2 separate regions of the Homo sapiens genome follow, and region 2 is linked to region 1. The links come from fine-mapping of genetic effects on gene expression. A gene starts in region 1. The other region holds a variant in brackets. All regions are shown on one strand. Distances are from middle to middle. Region 1 holds the start of HNRNPAB (heterogeneous nuclear ribonucleoprotein A/B). Region 2 overlaps COL23A1 (collagen type XXIII alpha 1 chain).

Region 1 (2,899 bases):
AACCTGCAGGCTCCAGAGGTTGTAATCCTGCTTGCCTTGGGGCCCACCACCCATATGATTAAAAGGAATAACGGGATTACCGAGGCCTTTAAAATTTTGTGGTCAAGGAGATAATATAAAGGAGTTTTGTGTATTAGGAAGAGAACAACGCCCCCACCCTGTCCTTTACCTCGTGAGTTCACGAGTGGTGTATTTGTTTTGTTTTGTTTTTGAGACGATGTCTCGCTCTGTCGCCCAGGCTGGAGTGCAGTGGCGAGATCTCGGCTCACTGCAAGCTCCGCCTCCCGGGTTCACGCCATTCTCCTGCCTCAGCCTCCCGGTAACTGGGACTACAGGCGCCCACCACCACGCCCGGCTAATTTTTTTGTATTTTTAGTAGAGACGGGGTTTCACCATGTTCGCCAGGATGGTCTCGATCTCCTGACCTCGTGATCCGCCCGCCTGGACCTCCCAAAGTGCTGGGAGTACAGGCGGGAGCCACCGCGCCCGGCCTCCGTATTTGTTTAAAAAAAAAAAAAAAAAAAAAAAGGCCGGGCGCGGTGGCTCACGCCTGTAATCCCAGTACTTTGGGAGGCCCAGGCGGGCGGATCACGAGGTCAGGAGATCGAGACCATCCTGGCCAACATGGTGAAACCCCGTCTCTACTAAAAAAACAAAAAAATTAGCCGGGCGTGGTGGCGCATGCCTGTAATCCCAGCTACTCGGGAGGCTGAGACAGGAGAATCGCTTGAACCCGGGAGGCGGAGGTTGCGGTGAGCCGAGATCGCGCCATTGCACTCCAGTCTGGGCGACAAGAGCAAGACTCCATCAAAAAAAAAAAAATAATAAAAAGGAAGAAAAAGAAAGACAAATGATTTACAGGAAAAAATTTAAGTAAACAAAAGTACAAATGCGATGTCAATCGTTCAGGTGGTGCCAGGGGACAGAGAACCGGGGAACACCAAGGTCTCATCGTCCCTGCAGAGCATCTCTGGGGGAGGCGACGGACAGGGCGCGAGCGCGGGGCTTGGAGGGCACCAAGGTCCAGGGGGATGGCGGGTTCAGTCCCAATCCCTCCGACCCGTGCTGAGGGCCTTGGAGGACCCCACTCGCCCAACCTCGGAAGCCCGGGTTCTGCCACTTCCAGCCACGCGTCCTTGGGCTGCGAAACTTTCTCCAGCCCAGTTTCCTCTTTTGGGACATGGGGAGGCGGAGGCTGCCAATGCTGGGATGGAGTCCTCGAGAGCAAGAGACCAGCGGCCTCGACGAGCTTACAATCCGATTAGGCCCTCCCACCGATGTGCTGTAGCTGCCCGCCGCCCTGGACCCGGCGCCGTCCCGCCCGGCTTCGGGAGCCCTCCGTAGCGGCCGGACTCGCGCGCGTTCTAAAATGAGGACAAAGCCCGCCCAGGTCTAGAGCGCGCGCGCCGTGGCGGCCAATGGGACGCTGAAGCTAGGTTGAGTGACGGACTTGAGCAGCCAATGAGTGTGCAGTTTGTTGCGATGTGGCACCCGGCTCCGGCATTATAAAGGGCGCCACGAGTCGGCATTGTCAGGCGGCGGCACCGCGCGGGACGGAGCTTGGCTGTTGGTCGGTGGGTTCCCGTGCGGCGGCGGCCAAGGAGGAGGAGACACAGTTGGAGCAGCTCCGTGGGCTGACTGGGGCGAGGCCTCAGCAGCGCGAGCTTGAGTGCGGCCGAGCCTGCGGCGCCTTCCCCTGCGGGTGGGGACGAGCGGGCCCCGCGGCGTCATCGGCGGCGAGGTGAGCGGCGGCCGGCGGGCGGGAGCTCTGGCGGGAGCCGCGCCGGCCTGACGCGCTGTCGCCGCTGGTTGCAGGAGCCGCCGCGCCTCGGCCTAGCATGTCGGAAGCGGGCGAGGAGCAGCCCATGGAGACGACGGGCGCCACCGAGAACGGACATGAGGCCGTCCCCGAAGGCGAGTCGCCGGCCGGGGCTGGCACGGGCGCCGCGGCGGGGGCTGGAGGCGCGACCGCGGCGCCCCCGAGCGGGAATCAGAACGGCGCCGAGGGCGACCAGATCAACGCCAGCAAGAACGAGGAGGACGCGGGGTAGGTGCGGCCGCGGGCGGACGGGGGCGCCGCCTTTGTTCCGGGGCCGCCTTTTGTTGGCGCCACGCGGCGGGGGGAGGGGCGGCGGCCTGGCCCGGGTCGGGGCTGGTGCGGCCCGCGGACTGTCGCCGCTGCGTTCGCGGGCCGGGCCTGGCGCTGCCACTCGCGCTGGAGTTTGCGGGAGTTTGTTGGGTCGACTTTGGCGCCGCCCCGGGGCCGCTCGCGCGCTGCCAGGGCCAGGGCCAGGGCCGGAGCCGGCGCAGGGGCGGGCGGATGGCCCGGAAGAGGGAAAGCGCTCGGACCCGGGGCCCGGCGGCGTCTTGGGCCGCGCCGGCGGCTGCGTGGGCGGAGTTGGCGCGAGCCGGGGCCCGGACCTCCCTCCTCCGCCTCTCCCGGGGGCGGAGTCACGGTCTGAACCCTGGGCGGGCTTGGTCCCCGGAAACATCGAGTTCCTTGAAACGAGTTCTCAGGAGTTGGTGGAGACGCTGGCCCTTTGCTACATGGTTGTAGAACACATGAATTTCCAGTTATGAGTGGTTAGGTCCCATACCCCTGGTGAGGTGGTCCCTTCTTTGCTTCTCACAGGCTGGGGCTGCAGAGCCTTGTTAAGCCTCGTTAGGGTCCTGGTTGAGTTCAATTTGGAGGGTAGTGGAGATTTAACATCTTTCTAAGGTGCTCCTTGCAGACTCTAAGGGTAGCTGTAGACTTCGTGAGAACTTTGCCAGGGCCAGTCCTTTCCAAAATCACAGCTTGCTTACAAGACTTGTTGCCGTGTGTCTCACCCTACCATTTCAGAAAAATGTTCGTTGGTGGCCTGAGCTGGGATACTAGCAAAAAAGATTTAAAAGACTA
Region 2 (2,899 bases), 50 kb after region 1:
GCTGGGCCTAGGGAGTTCCTTAGTCTCGCAGGTAGGGGTGGGGTCTCCAGTGTTTCCAGGTCCGACCCCACTCTCAAGCTCCTGTCCTGATCCAGGCTTTCTGCAGGCTACCTGCCACCAGGGCCCAGCTGGCCCCCTGCTCAGCCTCCACACTCCTCCCCTCCCTTCTGAAAAACTGCACCCTGCCCAGCCCCTGCCCCACCCCTGCCCCGGAAGCTCTAGGTCTCTCCCCTCCCACCTCCCTATCCTGTGCCCTTCTTGTTGGTGTCCCATTGAGATGTCCCTGGCCTCCATCTTATCTACCCTCCCCCAGGCCCAGGCCCAGGACCTCCCTGCCTGGGGTCCCCCTGCTCCCTGCTCCAACACCTGCTTTCATTCACTGTCCATATCATTCCCTAGCTAGCCTTCCCCCAATATGTTTTTATTTTTTATTTTTTTTTTATTTTTGAGATGGAGTCTCCCTCTGTTGCCCAGCCTGGAGTGCAGAGGTGCGATCTCAGTTCACCACAACCTCTGCCTCCCGGGTTCAAGTGATTCTCCTGCCTCAGCCTCCCGAGTAGCTGAGACTACAGGCGCGCACCACCATGCCCGGCTAATTTTTGTATTTTTAGGAGAGACGCGGTTTCACTATGTTGGCCATGCTGGTCTCGAACTCCTCACCTCGTGATCCACCTGCCTCGGGCTCCCAAAGTGCTGGGATCACAGGCGGGAGCCGCCGCGCCCGGCCGTGTTTTTATTTTTTTAACATCATGCCCTGCATGGACTATGGCTGCCCGCTGCCCATCAAACTGAGTCGGCATCTCAGTCTGGCATCCAAAGTCCATCTCTGGCTGGGCGTGGTGGCTCACGCCTATAATCCCAGCACTTTGGGAGGCTGAGGTGGCAGGATCACTTGAGGTCAGGAGTTTGAGACCAGCCCGGCCAACATGGTGAAACCCCGTCTCTACTAAAAATATAAAAATTAGCCAGGTGTGGTGGCGCATGCCTGTAGTCCCAGCTACTTGGGAGGCTGAGGCAGGAGAATTGCTTGAACCTGGGAGGAGGAGGTTGCAGTGAGCCGAGATCACACCCAGCCTGGGCGACAAGAGTGAATCTCCATCTCAAAAACAAAAACAAAACGAAGTCCATCTCCCAACTCCCTGCACTCACAGGGCTTCTCCCACAAGGCTAGGTCAGCCTGGGACACATCATGCATGTGCCTGCCGTCTGGGCCATGCCACGCCACACCACGCCACGCCACGCCACACCATGCATGCCTGGGGGTGGGTGCCACAGTTACTGCCAACTTGTACTTCCCCAAAGCCTGTGGGAGATAACTGGAAATGATGTTCAGGTGGGGCCAGGGCCCCCTTCCCAGTCTGGTCTCTGGTGACCACTCCTTCCTCACCCACTTTCCTTCTGGGGTACCCATGAGCTGCTGGCACCCAGTGCCTCTCTCCACTGGTGGTAAGTCCCAAGTTTACCAGCGACTGGGCTCGGAGGTCACATATCTCCCAAGGCTCTGGGGGCAGAGCTTGCCACTCTCATCCTCCCCATGGCATCATTAGGAGACCTAGCCCTCCAGCCAGTGTCCTCTGGGAAGGTCCCAGGAGACAC[C/T]GGTGGGAACAGACCCCAGGAAATACTCTGCCTCCTGCCCCTGAGTGGGGAGCTTCCCTTTTTGACTTGGCCTCTAGGGAGCTCGGGGCCACGTGGGCCACATTCACAGGGGCTCTCTGAGGCGGGTCTCAACATAGCCCTGATTTCCACATTGGGTGCCTAGTAACAGCCGGGGTCTTTGTGCTAAGCTGCCTCTGGTCCCTTGTGTAAAAAAGTGCAGGATTAATCACAAAGGGAGTGATTATTCCCTAAGGAAAAATCGTATCTAAGGCACATCCTGGTCCCACCAGGAACACTACCTTGAGGGCATCCAAGATCCTGCCATCATAGTCGATCACCACTGTGTCTCCCTGCTCGCCCTTGAGGCCTGGGGCACCCTGAGGCAGGAAGAAGAGTAAGAATTTCAGGGAAGAGCTACACTGAGTTGGAGGTGAAGTGGCAGCTGTCCCTGCATCACATCCAGAGAGAAAGCAATGGAAGAGCCTCGTCACCCAGGCTGCACGCATGCCCCTCCCCAGGGTGGATGGAGGGAACGGGAGGCAGGCCCTGTGGCCAGCTGAGAGACCTGTTTCCACCTGGTCTGAGGGGCGGCTGTAATTGCCCTCACGTGGGCATTCAGGCCTGACCCCTGAGTTCTCGGGGGCAAATGGAAAGCCTGATTTTGATGTGACGCTCTTCAGATTTTTCAATGTTGGCAACAAACAGAAAAGCCCCAAACCCTCCAAAACACAAAGACATGAGCAGGCTGGATCTGGCCCCCGTGCCTCCATTTCCCAGCCTCTGGGAGCGGCTGCACACGCCAAGCACCCACACGCCTATTCCCGCCTGGTTACAGGTGCATGTCAGCATGCCCATGTCCATATGCTGCACACTCATTGTGCACACTCACACGTGCACGCATGGCTGCTGGCCAGCCCTTCCCTTGTGAACCTCACTTCCCCACCCAGGCTGCTCTTTGCTTGGGGTACAGTGAAGGCTGGGGAGCACTTTGGTCCAGACCCGAGCCTATCCCTTGTGCAGGCTGGAGACCCTTGCTTGGGCCTCATTTGCCAGCCCTCCCCCGTCCCCAGTCACAGCCTGCCCAGAACTGCCTGGCTCACTGGCTGCCTAATCCAACCCCCTCCCGCTCCCCACCACCTGCACAGCCAGGCGGGGGCTCAGATCCATTTTTTTTGGAGGAAGAAGCCAGCCTCTGGGAGCATGAGGAGACAGAGCCGAGGCCAGGATCCCGGACGTCACCCTAAAGGTAAGGTATGTTGATAGGGGCTGGTCACAAAAGATCTGGGGCAGGCTGGGGTGCTGT

What was found. PIP is the estimated chance that this variant, and not a neighbour inherited with it, causes the effect.
Region 2: its variant is fine-mapped to the expression of HNRNPAB in whole blood (TOPMed, PIP above 0.99).

What each region holds. Positions count from the first base shown.
Region 1 is chr5:178,203,000-178,205,898 of GRCh38, forward strand. It overlaps HNRNPAB (heterogeneous nuclear ribonucleoprotein A/B), which reads left to right and starts at 1,534. Exons shown (of 8, transcript NM_031266.3): 1 at 1,534-1,741; 2 at 1,816-2,047; 3 at 2,843-2,899. The coding sequence starts at 1,839. RefSeq lists silencers at 1,348-1,417, 1,718-1,937, 1,958-2,067, 2,098-2,507.
Region 2 is chr5:178,253,054-178,255,952 of GRCh38, forward strand. COL23A1 (collagen type XXIII alpha 1 chain) reads right to left here. Exons shown (of 29, transcript NM_173465.4): 16 at 1,896-1,973. Among named protein-coding and RNA genes, the nearest start is that of PHYKPL, 22 kb to the left of the region's middle. The variant C/T (reference allele first, on the strand shown) is at 1,597.